Linked DNA regions of Homo sapiens: regions 2 and 3 are each linked to region 1. The links come from fine-mapping of genetic effects on gene expression. A gene starts in region 1. Each other region holds a variant in brackets. All regions are shown on one strand. Distances are between the middles of the regions. Region 1 holds the start of ANXA2 (annexin A2). Region 2 overlaps ICE2 (interactor of little elongation complex ELL subunit 2). Region 3 overlaps ICE2 (interactor of little elongation complex ELL subunit 2).

Evidence for each region. PIP is the estimated chance that this variant, and not a neighbour inherited with it, causes the effect. A credible set is the group of variants that fine-mapping cannot tell apart.
Region 2: its variant is the best candidate, but not a certain one, in a credible set for the expression of ANXA2 in whole blood (INTERVAL, PIP 0.89).
Region 3: its variant is the best candidate, but not a certain one, in a credible set for the expression of ANXA2 in whole blood (TOPMed, PIP 0.70).

The regions. Positions count from the first base shown.
Region 1 is chr15:60,394,253-60,402,988 of GRCh38, forward strand. It overlaps ANXA2 (annexin A2), which reads right to left and starts at 3,734. Exons shown (of 13, transcript NM_004039.3): 1 at 3,691-3,734. RefSeq lists enhancers at 2,080-2,671, 2,672-3,263, 2,757-2,806, 2,867-2,916, 2,937-3,126 and silencers at 3,287-3,426, 3,497-4,036, 4,157-4,466.
Region 2 is chr15:60,423,625-60,428,624 of GRCh38, forward strand. It overlaps ICE2 (interactor of little elongation complex ELL subunit 2), which reads right to left. Exons shown (of 16, transcript NM_024611.6): 15 at 4,805-5,000; 16 at 1-138. The coding sequence ends at 10. Among named protein-coding and RNA genes, the nearest start is that of ANXA2, 28 kb to the left of the region's middle. The variant TC/T (reference allele first, on the strand shown) is at 2,020.
Region 3 is chr15:60,461,364-60,466,363 of GRCh38, forward strand. All of the region lies in intron 5 of ICE2 (interactor of little elongation complex ELL subunit 2), which reads right to left. Among named protein-coding and RNA genes, the nearest start is that of ICE2, 15 kb to the right of the region's middle. The variant T/C (reference allele first, on the strand shown) is at 2,037.

The DNA of each region.
Region 1 (8,736 bases):
AGCCTGGGTGTGGCAGGGAGACAAAGGACATGGACAAAGGGCTCCATAACACAGTCACTCCCTAGAATAAGAAATTTCTACACCACACCTGGGGTAAAACTCAGGCCACTTGGGTGCTACCGACCTGTCCAGTTGAGCTCAGCTGGATTAAAAGCTTCAGGGTGGGCCAGGCATAGTGGCTCACGCCTGTAATCCCAGCAGTTTGGGAAGCCGAGACAGGCGGATCACTTGAGCTCAACAGTTCCAGACCAGCCTGGCCAACATGATGAAACCCTGTCTCTACTAAAAATACAAAGATTAGCCCGGCATGGTGGTAGGCACCTGTAATCCCAGCTACTCGGGAGGGTGAGGCTGGAGAATCACTTGAACCTGGGAGGCGGAGGCTACAGTGAGGAGAGATCGTGCGACTACACTCCAGGCTGGGTGACAGAGCCAGGCTCCATCTCAAAAGAAAAAAAAAAGAAAAAAAAAAACAGCTTCAGGGTGTACCCTAGAAGGGAGATTTGGAAGTCATCTGGTAGAACCACCCAGAAGGACAAATATGGGCATCTCCTGACCCCTACTGCTGACCTGTCCCTGGAGAAAGTAGATGAGGACTGCCTCTGGCAACAGCAGAAGAAAAAAGATACCAGGCAGTGAATGGGTGGAAAGAATTTTTTTGAAGGACTGGAATTTCCTCTGGTGTGGCCTACAACTAGAATAGGGTGTGGCACCAGGGCAAGTGAAGAGGATTCTCATGTGAAAAAAAAGAGGAACATTCCATTTCTATTTAATTCTCACAATTGAATCTGGAAGGCAGCTTAAGACACCATAATTTTAAGCAAAACTTCCCCGAGGTAGGTAAAATGTGAAGTTTAGGTCTGTGGAACAGCTGGATTAAAGGGGAAATGAACTCCCACCAAGTTTAGAAACTAGTATTAATTTGGGAAAATATAAAGTTTAAAATCCAACAATTCACTTATTTTGTCTCTTTTCCTTCTCTCTCCGCCAGATTTAAGGTCTAAAGAGCAGGGATTTTATTTTTGGCGGGGGTCTGTTTTGTTCACTGCTGTATCCCTAGTGCTCATAACTATGAGTGGAACACAGTAGGTAATTAATATTTTGTGGAATAAATGGTTGTTTAAAGCAGCCCACTAGAGCCTGAGACTCCTTTTGTGACAATCCCGCTCTCCTTTAATGAAAAATGTCTCCGCAGGCTCCAGGCTCTGCACAAGCGAAGGGTGAGAACAAAGGCTCCAGACAATGCATTAGTGCCAGATTCTAGGCCCAGTGGTGTAGGAAGAGCCTACAGCCCTCAAAATCAATAGCAATTATAGAAGCACATCTACTTTGCCAGGAAAACTACTTAAATCAGAAATTAGCCAGGAAACTAACGGCCATGACTGCGAGCCTAATGTCAATCAATACCATAGTTTAATAGCTCAAAGACACAAGATGCTAAATATTGAGACTCCAGTGCAAGACTGAGCTCCTAATCAAAGTCAGTGAGTCAGCAATATTTCCTGGGCATTTACCACAGGCAGTCTAGTTGGCACTGCGGGAAATTACAAAATCTAAACGGTCTCCAAATCACAAACCTCCAATTGTAAAAATGCACATACATGTCACATCCTTCCACTGCAGATGCAAGGGACATTTTTGGACAAACCCTTGACCTTTAGATAATCGACAGACTTGGAAGAAGGGAAGAAATTACTAAGCAGGACTGTGTTAACACTCCTGGCCCTTGCCCATCAAGGGCACCTCTGCTGCCCCAGTCTTACCAAAAATCTTCCTTAATATTGCCTGAATATTGCTGCTTTACATTCTATAAATTATAGATCTGTTTAGGTGAACGAGGGTTTTTTATTATTATTATGTATTTATTTTTTGAGACTGGGTCTTGCTATGTTGCTCACATTGGCCTTGGACTCAAGAGATCCACTAGCTTGAGCAGCTGGGACTACAGGCCCACGACCACGCCCAGTATCGTTGTTTTTTAAATAACAAGACTCCTCTCGGTTGCTGAGGCTCTTAGGACCACCAACCATTCCTAACTTAATGAATATCGATTCAATCTGCTAGTCTCTAGCTGGATGCAGGTCCGCCGAAATGGGAAGGAGGAAGGAATGCAGCGTAACTGGACCGGCCTGGATGGCTGTTGTAATGCGTCACGGAAGAGCCAGAAGAGCGTCTCTAAGGAGGTGGAAGGTGGAAAAAAGAAAGTGGAACAGGGGCAAAGACATAATTTTCCAATTAAAATAATTTACTCAGTGTCAACCTTAAAGCTAAAAAAAGTTCCAGAAAAATATTTCAGTGATTTAGTCTTCCTACACACACATTGCCCCTCACTACCCTCCACCTCCCCACCACCAATCCCATAATCAGGCAGTGCATGTTAAAAAGGTCTTTCAGGGCTAGCCTGGGAACGTCAGCACCTTCTGCAACACTGTTTCAGTGGGAAAGTGCATTCTGCATTCCAAGTCACCAAGTTCCAGACAGGCACAGTAGCACACACGTGTGAACAGAATCCATCAGTACAGTCTGGGGCCCAGGCCTTTGCACACCAACAACTTAAGGTTCTTGGTAATGGCCCAGCGTGCACCCATGAGGCCACTGCTCTTTTACACACGCACTCAGAACACCCACAGCTTTAAAACGGCAATCTTACTACAAAAATGACACTTTGCATTTGCACAGCACTTTGTTTTTTGTGTACTTTACACATTTATTACCTAATGACTGTGTTTTTTGAAATCTCCAATAACTCTGGGTGGTGGTAAGAATAGGCATCCTTAAGCCACCTTCCCAGATGAGGAAACTTATCTGTGTTCCCCTCCTTCTTCTCAACAGCCGGCTGATGGAACCCAAGCCCTCCACACCAGCAGTGGGGCCAGCTGCACAGAGCGGCCAGAAGGGAGAGGCCCCGGGGCCACGCCCTTCTCTCTACTCTCAGTTCCTGACTCATTGTCACATCATGGCGAGTAACAGGACAACCCTCCCCACAGAATCATGGGGGACACTACCTTCCTGAGGCCAATGTGTTCAACCAAGCGGGAAACTCTCCGGGTAGAGTGAAATCCGAAGTTGCTATGCTACAAGATAACCTAGAGCAAGGGGAATAACTGACGTTTTAATGTCTTCTTTTATGGGGGGCTGAGGGGTGCCTACTCACACTCCCCCCTCTCGTCTTCCCCCGCTACTTCCCTCCTGCTGGTCGGTTCAACTCCACAAGCGCGCGTTTGTTTCGAGTACAGTAACTTAGAGCAGATGGGGGGCACTTTCTAGAGGGCAGTGGAAAGCCCACTTGCTACTGCTGCGCCGGGGACCTGCGGCTCCCTGGGCGGCCACGCCCTGCCTCGGCGGCGCCTGGCGCGTCTGGAATGCGGGGCCTCCCTCCGCCCCTCTCCCCACGCCGCCTCGCCCCGCTCCCGCTAGGGCTTCTTAGAGAAGCCCGACCCCCCACCACCTCTGCCCTGCACCCTCCCGGCCCGAGGGCCGGTGGCCCCTCACCCCTGCCCCAAACACCTTGTCCCTGAGCCCCCTCCCCAAAGACTCTCCAGTGCCGGCCGTCCCTTCAGCCCCCTGCCCCCGACGGCCTCCGGGGCCAGTTGCCGGGGCCTCCCTGCCAGGCCGTACCCTTCTTCCCAGCGTCTCCACACCCCGCTAGCTGGCGGCCCATCGCGGGCGGGCAGGGCGCGCCCCGCTTACCTGGGCCGTGCGCCGAGAGCTGAGAGCGTCCCCAAATGCTGAGCAGAGCCGGCTGGCCTGGGTGGGGCTTTTATACCCGCCACATCCTCCCTAGGCGAGGCGAGGCCCGCCCCGCCCCGCCCCGCCTCCCCCTTACACGGCCCGCTCCCACCCCAAGTCAGGGGTGACTCACCCCGGCCCGCCGGCCCGCAGGGACCGCGCCCTGGAACGCTCCCGAGCCGCGCCACGCGGGAGCGGCCCCAGCGCCCCTGGCCCTGCCCTCCGAGAAAGCCCGGCCGAGGCTGCCCCGAGGCCCACAGGGACCCCGTTTCTTCCTCCTTTCCTCATTTTACTTCTTAAGTGCCACGTCGAGCTCTCAGCCTCGGCTTGGGTTAATAAATTAACAAGACTTTAGTAGTAGACTCTGGGCTTGATTAAGTGTTTTTTTTTTTTTTTTTTTTTTTTTGGCGTTAATGCAATGGAGGAAAGAATTGTTCCAAGAAACATAAATCTGGACTCCCCTGAGCTGGGGCTGTTGGCATCCAGCGCCCCATTACCGTCTGCAAACATGTCAGCTTAACCTCTGGCCGCCAGTTCCCGGGGGGCGCCCGGGGAGGGAGGGAGATTCGCCCTGTGCTGCAAAGCCTGGCCCGCCCCGGCCTCCGAGGGCCAGGAAGCCCCGAGCCTGGGCTGGGAGGCCAAAGCCGGGAGCCAGGATCCCACCTCAGTCCCGCCCAGGGTGGCGCCCCTGTCCCTAGCACGGCTGTGCTCCGCTTCTCTCCGCGCCTGGGGCATCTCTGCGCGGCCTCGTAGCAGGCAGTCCTGAGCGGGGTGGGGCCCATAGCTTTGAACCCGGAGTTTCGTGTGTGTGTGTGTGTGTGTGTGTGTGTGTGTGTGTGTGTGTGTGTGTGTGTTTCGAACCCGGAGTTTCAACAAAGAACTTTCCTCTCCTTCTTTCATGACTGCTGGGGTGTGTGTGTGCGTGTGTGGTGTGTGTGTGTGTGTGTGTGTGTTTCTTGCAGCCGTTTAGCCAACTCCCTTGCTCGGTGTTGCTGTTACTCGCTTTTCTTCCGAGAGAGAGAGAGAGAGAGAGAGAGAGAGAGTTTCTTGCAGCACAGAGAGAGAGAGAGAGAGTGAGATAGAGAGTTTCTTGCAGCCAGTTAGCCAACTCCCTTGCTCGGTTTTGCTGTTTCTCACTTTTCTTCCGTGTGTGTGTGTGTGTGTGTGTGTTTCTTGCAGCCGTTTAGCCAACTCTCTTGCTCGGTTTTGCTGTTTCTCGCTTTTCTTCCGTGTGTGTGTGTGTGTGTGTGTGTGTGTGTGTGTTTCTTGCAGCCGTTTAGCCAACTCCCTTGCTCGGTTTTGCTGCTTCTCGCTTTTCTTCCAAGAGTCACGTTGGCAACGTGCAGGCAGACACCTATTTGTTGTATGTGAGACGACGCAAATACTGTATTCGAACCTCAAACTAACAGGAAAGCGACGCTGAGAATCCCGAGGATCTCTGGCTGCGTTTTTTAAACCCCTCCTTGCACACTACTTCCTGCAGCTCTTTTTCCTGGTTTTGATGATTCTGTGTTTCAATCTCCCATTTATCTTAACATCCATTTTTACTTTCCATTTGAGCGTCAATTCACTCCTGGGAATCAGAGAATGATAGCAAGGCCAACAGACATTCAGTGCTCTGCCCACTCGCATAGAGTGACACAGGCAAAGTCGGCCACAGCTGAGGTCTTTTAACCCGCCCAAAGCTTTCTGTTACCCAGCGCTTTCACGAGGAATTATACGCGATGGGCCCTACCACAGAGCCAAATAGAAAATCAAGCAACACTTTGGGTACAATTGCTGATTTACATTTATAGCTCTTCAATTTAGCCTGAAAGCTTCAAAGTCAGAAACAATGTTTATCTGCTTACTTTGTGTGAACATTTTGGAAGGTTAGGGGAACACAGGCAGACAGTAATATTGGGCACGATTCAGCCTCCCTTCTGTGTATCTCAAGATAGGTTCCACAGTCTCTTACTCCTAATCGTGCTGTGATAGGCCCTTTACAGAAGATAAAATTTAATTCAAATCATGTGGAATATATAAAAGCCATCAAATGTCCAAAAGAGTTTTGTGCTCATCTTGGGCATGCCACAAATTCTAACTTCTATAGATTTGTACAATCACCAGTCTTTGCATCATGCTAAAGAAATGTGCACTGATGTTATCATAAAAATGAAGCTATTAGAAGTCATAGTTTGCTATTTCTGAGGAATGTGAGGCCAGTTCTTCCAGTATAAAAGATCTTTTATTAGTCAGAAGACTCTATTTTCCCCCCTGGTTGAGGAGAATGTTTACATCAGCCCTCAGATTGTCTGCTGTTGTCCATATTGCTCTCTAAGTGCTTGACTTTGTTTTGTTCACACTTCATCTGCTGCACTCAACACCTACTAGCGCCTAGCTAGCAATGATAGGCACTCACTAAATGTGATAGAATGATAAAATACAATTATTCACTGAATAATAGAATGTTAAAGCAGGGAGGGACCCTAGAGATTAAATTGCCCTATCCTTGATTTTTACTATTATTATTCTTATATCTTTTAGTTGAGATCTCACACTGTCACCCAGGCTGGAACGCATGGCATGATTAGGGCTCACCGCAGCCTTGACTGCGGAGGCTCAAGAAATCCTCTCCTCTCAGCCTCTTGAGTAGCTGGGACCACAGGCCCACGCCACCAAGCCTGGCTAATTTTTCTATTATTTGTAGAGACGACAAAGTCTTGCTATGCTGCTCAGGCTGGTCCCGAACTTCTGGGCTCAAGTGATCTGCCTACCTTAGCCTCCCAAAGTTCTAGGATTACAGGCGTGAATTACTATACCCGGCTCTTGATTTTTACATATGAAGAAATTGGAGTCCAAATAAAATCTCCTGCCCAGTCCAGGGATTAAATAATGCACCCAAGGCCCTCGTATCAGTTACCTTTGCAGTATAACAAATTATCCCCATAAACTTAGTGGTTAAACATAACCATTTACTTGCTTGTAATTCTGCAATTTAAGCAGGACACCCAGTGGGGACAGCTTGGTGCTCCTCCACAGCATGTTGGGTTGGGTAGCTTAGTTGGGGTTGGAAGATTGAAAGCAGCTTCATTCGTCTGGCGCCTGAGCTGGGATTGCTAGAATGACAAAGAGCAGGCTGGGCCTTTCTCTTCCTTGGTCTTACATCCTCCAGGTTCTCCTCTTTTGCTACACCACGGTAGTCATGGCAGCCAGCCTTCTAGAAGCAAAAGCTGAAGCTGCCAGGCCTCTTGGCTCACAGGCTGTGCAAAAACAAGCAATAGGCTGGATTTGCCCTATGGGCTGTAGTTTGCTGATCCTTGTTTTAATCCATTGCCCTACTCAAGTTTTTGGTTTTGCCCTCTGATATCTAGGCTCCTCCCTTTAAGATGTATTTCCTTTTCTTAAGAATGGCCCAGGCCAGGCATGGTGGCTCACGCCTGTAATCCCAGCACTTTGGGAGGCTGAGGAGGGCAGGTCATGAGGTCAGGAGATCAAGACCAGCCTGACCAACATGGTGAAACCTCATTTCTACTAAAAATACAAAAAATTAAGCTGGGCGTGGTGGCGGGCGCCTGTAGTCCCAGCTACTCGGGAGGCTGAGCAGCAGGAGAATGGCTTGAACCCAGGAGGGGGAGGTTGCAGTGAGCTGAGATCGCACCACTGCACTCCAGCATGGGTGACAGAGCGAGACTCCGTCTCAAGAAAAAAAAAAAAAAAAAGAATGGCCCATATTTGTAGCTGAGCAGTTCTCTCAGTCTGCTTCATTCATGCCAGGAGAAACTGAAAGGTCTAGAAACTTCTTTTCATTTTGCACTTTTTCTGGTTTAAGCTGGCAGTTGTTTCATTAATACAAGTATCTTAAAAACCATGTAGATTTTCCATATCTTATTAAGGTTCACACCATGCTCCAAGATTTATATACAATTTTCTCAAAAACTTTATTTATATAAATCTTGCTGAGGTTTAATTCCATGTTCCAAGATTCACATTCATTTTTTTTTTTTTAAATAGATCTCTCTCTACTTTACATGTCAGGCTGCAGTGGGACAATGCACTTAAGATTCTTAGAAGCCCTGAGATCGTCTTCGAAGTACCACATTAAATCTTTCTTGGAGTCTTTAAAAAGAAGTTTTTGCCGGGCGTGGTGGCTCACACCTGTAATCCCAGCACTTCGGAAGGCCAAGGCGGGTGGATCACAAGGTCAAGAGATTCAGACCATCCTGGCCAACATGGTGAAACCCTGTCTCTACTAAAAATACAAAAATTAGCTGGGCTTGGTAGCGCGTGCCTGTAATCTCAGCTACTCAGAAGGCTGAGGGAGGAGAATCGCTTGAACCTGGGAGGCGGAGGTTGCAGTGAGCCAGGATTATGCCACTGCATTCCAGCCTGGCAACAGAGTGAGACTCCGTCTCAAAAAAAAAAAAAAAGATTAAAAAATGTATAAAGAATGTCTGGTATATTGTAGGTGATGAAAAAAGCCATAGTTATTTCATTGGCTTTTTTAGTCTTTGCAGCAGCTGGCCTTGCTGAACGCATAGTAAGACCTCAATAAATCCTTGTTGAATTCACGTGTCATGACCCAAACCACACAGAGTACTCTTGGTATGGACAAACCACAATGTCTATTTTGTTTGGAGGCATTTCCAGGGAAAAATCTGCAGTGACTTCAATGTCTCTTTCTCAGCTGTAACAGACATTTTTGACCTCAGTTCATTCTCTGAGACAGCCAGAATTCTCTTTCTGAGACATAATTCTGATTATATGACCCCTCTCCAGAAACTCTTCCCAGCAGGGCTCTGACCTACCTGGGCAGCCTCATTCCCCCACATCTTCACTCTTCACCGCTCCATGTGCCACTGCTGGACAGGCCAGGCTCATTCATGCTTTGTACCTTCCTCCATCCTGTTTTCCTGCTGGAATGCCCTTTCCTGCTTTCCTCAGTGGTGAACTTTGCCTCATCCATCAAGCCTCAGAGTAAATATTATTTTCTACTGCAGAGCAAAGGCTTTCCCAAGCCCTTCAGGC
Region 2 (5,000 bases), 28 kb after region 1:
GTACAGTCCTCAAGTTATTTTTCTTTTATGTGGAGCCACTCCTTCAGTTTCAACTTGCTGAGCAGGCAAGCAACTGCTTTTGGTTTCCATGGAAACTGGATTCCTGTGGCTGCGTGTAGGCATTCTCGTTCCACCAATCTAAGAGATGAAGCAGAGAACAGAATAGCTTAATGTATCTACAACATACCTATATACAGTCAACTCTGTAGTATTTATACATGTATTAACCACCTTGCAAATAAGCTCTTATATATTTTTCATCTCCAGCTAGCTGGCTGTTTCTAAACAAGTTTTAATCTGACACATTTTTAAGTACTAAACTTTCAAATAACCATCAGAGAAGTTGATAGATCTGAGTAGATGGGGAGCAAAGTGAATGGGGAAACTATTCTCTGTGTTAAATTTATTAGAGGTTGAAAAGATAAATTAGAAATCAAGGGAATGACAGGCCTTATGTGTGATGTGTTTGAAATAATTAAACTGAAGGACAAGAAAAAGGAAGGAGTAATAGGGAGGGAGCGAAAGGAAATACAAGAAGGTCAGAGGTGGTAAACAGGGAGAAGAAATTACATGGACAAACAAGAAAGATAATAAGAAGGGTAGGGAAGATAAGGAAAGAAAATTGAGGAAAGAGATGAAGATTAAGAAAAAGGGAAGTAAAAAAAAAACAGTAAAAGTGTAAGGAAGTTTCAAGACAAGAACCCAAGTAGCAGGGAAATCCTGAAGGGCTGAAAGAGGAGAGCAAGAAAGAAATAAGAAAAGGGGAAGAAAAAACTGGAAGGGGGAATACAGAGGATGGGGGAAGGAACTTTGCTGTGGTTCTACCTTCAAGTCTACCCTTCCTTACCCTCACTTTCTAGCTCACACAGTCAAAGAGAGGTGGTCTATTTTTTTTCTTTTGAGACAGAGTCTCGCTCTGTCACCCAGGCTGGAGGACAGTTGGCGCGATCTCTGCTCACTGCAACCTCCACCTCCTGGGTTCAAGCGATTCTCCTGACTCCAGACTCCTGAGCAGCTGGGATTACAGGTGTGTGTCACCATGCCTGGCTAACTTTTGTATTATTAGTAGAGATGGGGTTTCACCATGTTTAGGCTGGTCTGGAATTCCTGACCTCAAGTGATCTGCCCGCCTCAGCCTCCCACAGTGCTGGGATTATGGGCATGAGCCACCGCGCCCAGCCAAGGTGGTCTATTCTTAATACAGAATCCCTTGCTATGTAGTCATGTTAAAGATGTGATCTATAAAAACAGTAATGGAGAAGGCCAATCTCACAGAGAAGGACCAAAGCTGTATAGCCTGAAACTATTTCCACAGAACCTGCCCATATCTGCCTTTATTTTCCCTGGCCACCTTGTTCTCCTCTATTTCTTCATATCCCGTCCAGTCAATTTCAGGCCTGGGACTGAAGGGTGATAGTGTAACTCCAAGCACTCTCTCTCATAATGCTAGCCCAACAGAAATACTATTGGCATTTGCTCCAAGGGGTTACAGACTCACTGAAAAAGCTCGGACTCTGGCTTCCTTTATTTAATATCTACTGTCCCTTTAAAAAGCATTTTTTTTTATTTACATTTACCTGACCAGAAAGGACAAATTGAGTACAGATTTGTCTGTGTGAATCTGATGAAATTTTGTAATATACTGATTAGAAAAGTGCTGCGACTTTTGGATGATCTATACCACTCCTCACTCAGCTGGTATTTCCTATAAAGGTATATTGACCACACTAATTCTATCTGTTAAAATTTTTGAGAAAAGCAAGCATTTTGAAAACCTCCACTGCAAGACTGTGTGTGTCTGAATGTGTAAAATAAATGTTTATTACAGAAGATGTAGAAAGAAAAAAGGGATAAGTGTGAAGCTGCTGCAAGAAAGACTGGAAGCAGAAGTCAAAAGTAGCCCAGGAAGCAAATGGGACCCTTAAATACAATCTCTACTTGATGCAGTAGGGAGGCAGATGCAGGCTCTACTGGCATATCTCTCAGGGTTAGTACCAAAGGCACTATACAAGGATGAGA[TC/T]AGAGTTCAAGTGGACTCGTGACTATGGGATCACATTAGAGGCAGAAACGTTTGAACAAATTTTTACACCATGAAAATATGCAGATGATTTCTATTTCATATAGGTCTTACTTCCCTGGTTTCCTGAAAGCTGTCATCTTACCATTGCTGCTAAAACTAGAATCCATATTTGCACTTAGATTGGTTGGGACTAGAAGGCCCAATCCCATGGCCTAGCTAGGAGGTAGGGAAGAAGATGGGGTAATTCCTATCAAACACAGGGCTAGATTGTGGGGAGGTGAGTAGATCACCAAAAACTTTCCACTGGCTTTCAAAAATATATCAAACCAACTATTAGTTATCTAATTGTCCACTGTACCTAATGCTGGGCTCTACAACAACCTGGGCCTGGATAATCTCGTTAAGTATTTGTTCCTGGACTGAATGCATGAAGCACACTCCGTGATACACATGTAATTGAACTGTTGTAATTATGTGGCCAAATTGTGAACATATGGAATTTCTCCTTTTCCAAATACAGTCACATTTTGGTCAAAATGAACTACATATACAACAGTGGTCCCAAAAGATTATAATGGAGCTGAAAAATTTCTATCATCTAGTGATGTCACAGCTGTTACAACATAACAGTGCAATGTATTACCTTGTCTACGTTTAGATATCCAAATACCAGTGTATTACAACGGCATACAGTATTCAGTACAGCAACATGCTGTACAGGTCTGTAGACTACCTAACAGCAATAGGCTATACCATACGGCCTAAGTGTGTAGTAGACTACACCCTCTAGGTTTGTGTAAGTAAGCTTATGGTATTTAAACAAAGACAAAATTGCCTAGTGCTGCATTTCTCAGAATGTATCCCTGTCGTTAAGTGATACATGACTACAAATTGTGTTATTGTACTAAAGCACATTCTAGACATTATTTAAAAAAAATCAAATCATTAAAGTATTTCCAAAGCATAAAGCATTCAACACTATTTTAGTGTCAGTCTATATCAATAAGGAAAGTATATTACTCATTTTTTTAGAAACACCTTGCACACACATAATACATTTTTCCTTTCACTTAAAGTTGTTCAATTCCAAGGTATTAAACTGTTCATTTTCACTAAAAAGGAATAAACCACTCCCACACAGAATTACATGTTATAGGTGAGAGACTATAATCAGTGTTTCTAAATTAAAAGGAAATCATTCTCCTAGAAAAACACAGATCCTTCAAAAATAGTTCTTCAATTATTTTTGAGTTACTTAAGAAAATTTTTCCTTAGGTTATAAAAGTTACTACTTCTAGTAAACTGGAAACAGACAACCAAAACTGAAGATAAAATAGCTTAAAATGCTAACAAGTAACTTTCTCCATTCTTTCACTTGTCCCAACTTAACATTTATATTTTCTTGGCCAAAGCTAAGTAGGAATGTACAAGGAGTTCTCATTTCTAAAAGGATACTCCCAAACAGTAACTTAGAGTGGAGAACTGAAAGACATAAACAAACAACCCTGTTTACTTTAAATTATTTAAAAATCCTCAGTATTTGCATTCCAGCTGTTTCTCATAAGGATTTGAGGACATTTACAGATTAATTCAGTATAGTACAGACAGTGAAAAGGAAGAATACACAAGTGATAGATGCTCTGGGGCAACCATAATGAGAAGATAATGACTCAGACAATAATTCTGACTCAAAGACTTTTGGCAGTAAGTAAGGAAAATATACTGGATCGTGTCCTGAACACATTCAGAGTCATTTGTAGAGAGCAAAACTTTTTTCTTTCCTTTTCTTTTTTTGAGACAGAGTCTCGTTCTGTAGCCCAGGCTGGAGTGCAGTAGAGTGATCTTGGGTCACTGCAACCTCTGCCTCCCAAGTTCAAGCGATTCTCCTGCCTCAGCCTCTCCAGTAGCTGGAAATGATTACAGGTGTGCACCATGATGCCAGGCTAATTTTTGGTAGAGATGGGGTTTCACCATGTTGGTCAGGCTGGTCTCAAACTGCTGACCTCAAATGATCCACCCGCCTTGGCCTCCCAAAGTCCTGGGATTATAGGTGTGAGCCACTGCGCCCAGCCCAGTGCAAAACTTTTCTAACAACTAAACTCGAACTGGAATTTCCTACACAATATACAGAATGAGTGACATAGCAGAGAATAACTCTAGCTATGGGTTTATAAGCTTCAGATAATGTCATTCAACTGTTACTTTTGGCAAGGGTTCTATAAAGAGAGTAATGTTAATTGTAATTCAGTAAATACTGAGTTACATAATACCTAGAAAGACACAATTTAGTCCTTGATACTTTAGGTATATTTTTAATTAGGCACTCTGTTCACAAACTGCTATTACTTCTTTTTCCTCATCCTAATTAACAATGTTTAATTATATCATAATTTTATTACATGTACTCTTCCGCAAATTGCCTAAAATACTTAATGAAATGAAACCCAGTATATATAAATAAAAATTACAAAAAACCCCACAACTTTGCTTTTCATAGGAATATAAGGGTTTAACTACATGGATGCCTTACCCATACACCCACTGTGCAAGCTAAGAGAGTTTTCTTTAGTTGACTTATAAATCTTGCAAAAATAAAAAAGTTCCACTACCACGAAGACTGGACTCACCATGGCATACAACTTTATCCTTCCTATGGATATAGCTTTTAGAATGGTGCTGTGATTAATATGACAATGAGAACATCAGGGTGAAATACGGTAAAGTCAGTGAAATAGACGAATAATAAACAACCTAATGAACCTTTAATTTCAAAAAAGATCTTACCTTTTGTTGTGTTGTGGTATCCAGTGATTTCGGTGGAAAAGTACAAGGTATTCTTCCATGATGGATATGATATGGTAATAACAGGCTGGGATCTAATGGGACCCAGGGAACTGAGAGACTGGAAGGTACACCAGGAAGGCCGCAATGTGTTTTATACAAATTGTATGCTGTCCTAGTAACTTTTCCATCAGAGGCC
Region 3 (5,000 bases), 65 kb after region 1:
AGCAAATTAAAAAATCAGCAAAATACTTCAATAGACATTTCACAAAAGAAATGCACTTAAAATGAGTAATTTTTATATGTAAATTATACCTTAATAAAATTGTTTTAAAAATTAAATGTGGATTTAAAAGGGAGGCTTTAGTATTTAATGGCTACTATATGATGCTCTAACAATAAAAACACAGTGCAATCTTTTAAAAAATGTGGGGGAGAATGAGAAGAGCATAAGAAAAATAATTTCAACTGTTTTCAGTAATCGTATTGATCACTAGTATTAATATTGTTATTTTGAGGCTGTTGTGAGTGTAATGTGGGATAAAGCAAATGAGACATATGAGGTATTTTTCCTTTAAATCTATTTCCTAGTTCTATCCACTGAATTATTCTCAAAACAATGATCAACCCAGGAGCATCCATAGTGCCCAGATTGTAGTCTTGAAATATCATTTCACACTAAAAGAAACAAGGGCTCTTGAAAATGGCTGATTCCAGGGCCAGGGCAGGAAGTGTACAAAATGAGCCTCAAAGACTACCAGACTGACTGAAAAGCCAGTAGGAAGAGCCTCTCAGTGAGTTAATACTATTTGAGGCTTACAAAGGATAATAATCGTAGTGGACAGAAACACATATATATTTAACTCCATGATTTAATAATAACATTTTAAAAAAAGAAAAGACACCAACATTGGAGAATAAGAAGGAACTAATTTTTTTAAAAGTGGTATTTAAAAGGAAAGAATCTAGTATTTATTCTGCTACATGGTAAGCTACATGAACTGGGAAACCAAATAGTAAGTAAGGGAAAGCATATCTTTTAAAAAGTATTCCAATGAATAAATGATGCAATCAGAATATTACAACTGTGCAAACCACAGTGAATGAATACATCTAGGCAGTGAGCATTAACAGCTGGGGTGGTGGGGAAAATGTTAGTTGACATAAAATTTCAGTCAGGAGGAAAAATTCAAGAGATCAATTATAAAACATGGTGATGATAGTTAATTACAATGTATTGTGTTCTTGAAAACTGCTAAGAGAGTAGATTTTAAGTGTTCTCACAACAAAAAAACAGGTTTGTGAGGTAATGCATATGTTAATTAGTCCGGTTTGGCCTTTCCACAATGTATACATATTTAAAAAACATACAGTACAAAATAAATATATACAATTTTAACTTGTCAATAGAAAAAGATAAAATTCAAAACAGAAAAAGGAGAAAAACTGCAACATACATAGCCCATAAAGTTTTTGTATTTGGAATATACAAAGAAATCTTACATATCAATTAGAAAAAATGAACAGTCATTCTGCAAGAAAAAGTGAGCAGGAACATATGAAAACATGCGCTCTCTCTGGCTCTCGCTCTCCCTCTCTCTCTCCCTCTATATACATATATATATATGTCTGAGATGTGGAGCAACAGAACTCTTAAACACTGCTGGTTAGAATGTAAATTGATATAACCTGGTATAGCCACTTTGGAAAACCATTTGCAAATCTACTCAAGTTGAAGATACGCATACTCTATGACCGAATAATTCCACTTATAGGTATACAAACAGTTCCCAACTTATGAAGGTTCCACTAAATGATTTTCCAAATTTATGATGGTGCCAAACCATTGCAATTTTGTCACAACGTACAGCATTCAATAAATTACAAGACACTCAATAATTTATTATAAAATAGGCTTTGTGTTAGATGATTATGCCTAATTGTAAGTAAATATAAGTATTGTGAGCATATGTAGAGTAGGATAAAATACACTATGATATTTGGTAGATGAGGTGTATGCATCTTTAATTCATTACAGGTTTACTGAGATGTAACTCTATCGTGAGTCAAGAAGCATCTGTATATCGAACAGAAACGTGTGCGTATGTGTACCAAAAGAAATGTATGAGAATTTTCTTAAGAGTACTGCTTAGAATAAGCTCCCAAATGGAAACAACCCAAGTTCCGATCAACAGGATAAATTGTAATTTATTAATATAATGGAAAAATGGACAGAAATGAAAATGAATGAACTACAACTCA[T/C]ACAACCTAAGAATCAAAAAGCACAATACTGAATGAAAGAAGGAAGGCCCAAAAGGATTCTGTTCCCATAAAATTCAAAATCAGGCAAAAAGGGCCAAGCACGGTGGCTCACGCCTATAAACCAGCACTTTGGGAGGCCGAGGCAGGTAAATCGCCTGAGGTCAGGAGTTCGAGACCAGCCTGGCCAATACGGTGAAACCCCATTTCTACTAAAAACACAAAAATTAGCTGGGCGTGGTGGCAGGAGCCTGTAATCCCAGCTACTTGGAAGGCGGAAGCAGAACAGCTTGAACCCTGGAGGCAGAGGTTGCAGTGGGCTGAGATCGTGCCATTGCACTCTAGCCTGGGCGACAAGAGCGAAGCTCCGTCTCTTAAAAAAAGAAAAAAAAATCCCAACAAAATCAGGCAAAAGAGAAGTAGAACTACCACCCTCCATACACACACAAAAAGCACAGAACTTATCACCACCAAAGCTGGGACACTGATTATTCACTCAAGTAAGGAGAATGTTATTTATTATACAAGAGGACTACACAGGGGGCTTCTGAATTACTGGCATTATTTTATTTCTTGACCTGGACAAGAGTTACGTAGATGTTTACTATATAATTATCTGTTAAGCTGCATCTATTTTTTCTTTCGTTCTATATACTTTTCCATATGTACGTGACATTGTACAACATAAAATTTTAAAACTAAAAGATCTCAGAAAAATATCAGTGAATCTTTGGGATGGGGATGTAAAATACAACTTGGAGAAAATGTGCTGCCACATCAATATGGAAAAAAACATGATGATGTTTATCATTTATCATTAGCTACCAAGTAATGTACTTTGTTAATAAAGTACAGTTTTATATTCACCTAAGAAATATCTACATTGAGCACCTGAGCACTTAAGCGTGCCATACACTGTTCTAGTCATTGGAAGACCACGAGTGAATAAAACAGCACTTACAAAAAGGCACTGTTTTACAAAAACAGTGAGGGGAAGGACAATAAGCAAAAATAAAATGTGGTAAAGGGAAAAGTGAGGGTCATACTACATTCCATAGGGTAATCAGGGACACCCTCATTGATAGGTGACATCTGAACAGACAGAGACCTAAAAGAATCAAGACACTACTACACGCAGAAATCCGGGGAATAGATTGAGAAAAATAGAAACCCCAAATGCCAAAGGACTTAAGGCAGGACTATGCTTGCAGTATTGAAGAAATGTAAAGGCCAGTCCGCAGGTGGGGGAAGAATAACTGATAGGGCAATTTGTAGAAAGTGAGGATGGGGGATGGGAGGGAGGGGAGAGATCATGCAGGCCACTGTAGAACTTTGTAAAGACTCTTCCTAAGAAAGATGGGCTGTAATCCCAGCACTCTGAGAGGCTGACGCAGAAGGATTTTTGAGGTCAGGAGTTTGAGACCAGCCTGGTGAACACAGGAGGCCCTGTATCTAAAAAAAGTTAGCTGCAGTGGCATATGCCCATGTCCTTGTTATTCAGGAGGCTGAGCTGGGGAGGATCACTTGAACCCAGGAATTCAAGGCTGCAGTGAGCTAGGATTGTGCCACTGCACTCCAGCCTGGACTATGACTTATGTATTAAAAACATCATTCTGGTCTTTTAAAAGGCACTATCAAAACAAGAACAGCTGCCAGCTCCTTTTCCACATAGAAAATTATGACATTCCCTTTGGATATATTTAGGTTCACAGAAAATAAAAATCAAATTCGTTTATTTAGAAGAACCATTCTTCTGGTTCGTATTAACAGCAAAATTCTTCCTTACAGTGTTTTTTTTTTCCTTCCTTTTTCTGAGACAGGGTCACGTTCTGTCATCCAAGCTGGAGTGTAGCAGCACAATCAAGGCTCACTGCAGCCTCCACCTCCTGGGCTTAAGTGATCTTCCCACCTAAGCCTCCCAAGTAGCTGTGACTAGGACTACAGGCACATGCCACCATGCCAGATAATTCTTTTTGTATAGATGGGATTTTATTATGTTGCCCAGGTTAGTTTCAAATTACTGGGCTCAATCCTTCTGCCTCGGCCTCCCAAAGGGCTGAAACAATAGGTGTGAGTCACCGTGTCCGGACTTTTTAAAAAAACAGTGAAAGTGTAACACTCCTGCTGTCCTTCAACTTAGACTGGCTAGTTTTGTTTTTTTAAGCTACGGTAAAATTTACCACCTTATCCCTTTTTAAGTGTAGAGTTCAGTAGTGTTAAATATATTAACACTATTGTTCACAGTGACCAGCTTTAAAGGCTTAAACAAATTTAGACTGATATTTATAAACTCTACTACAAATATGTGTGTGTGTATATATATATAGTTATTATTTAAGTAGTATACTTTATTCTTTTTTTTTTTTTTTTTTGAGACAGGGTATCGCTCTGTCACCTAGGCTGGACTGCAATGGCACAATCTTAGCTCACTGCAAACCTCCACCTCCCGGGTTCAAGCGATTCTCCTGCCTCAGTCTCCTGAGTAGCTGGGATTACAAGCGCCCACCACCACGACTGGCTAATTTTGCTATTTTTAGTAGAGATGGGGTTTCACTATGCTGACCAGGCTGGTCTCGAACTCCTGACCTCAGGTGATCCACCCACCTCGGACTCCCAAAGTGCTGGGATTAGAGGTGTGAGCCACCACGCCTGGCCTGTTTAAGTAGTATACTTTAATTTTCTGGTAGGCTCAATGAATGATGGTAGGGTACAAGCTGGGATGATATACAGGTCTTACTAATAAATTTGCATGAATGAGTGAAGTATCCAAAAATGAACTCAGAGTTGAAATTTATCATTTTGTGGCTGGTTACCACAAACATAATGAGCACAAGTTCACTTGACCGAGTTTTAAAAGGCCATTCAGACTTTTAGGGACCAGGATAACGCTTTAAATGCTATTCTCTCACAAGGGAAGTCAGTGGGTCAGTTCAAACTATTATGTGAATAAAATGTAATGATACAATA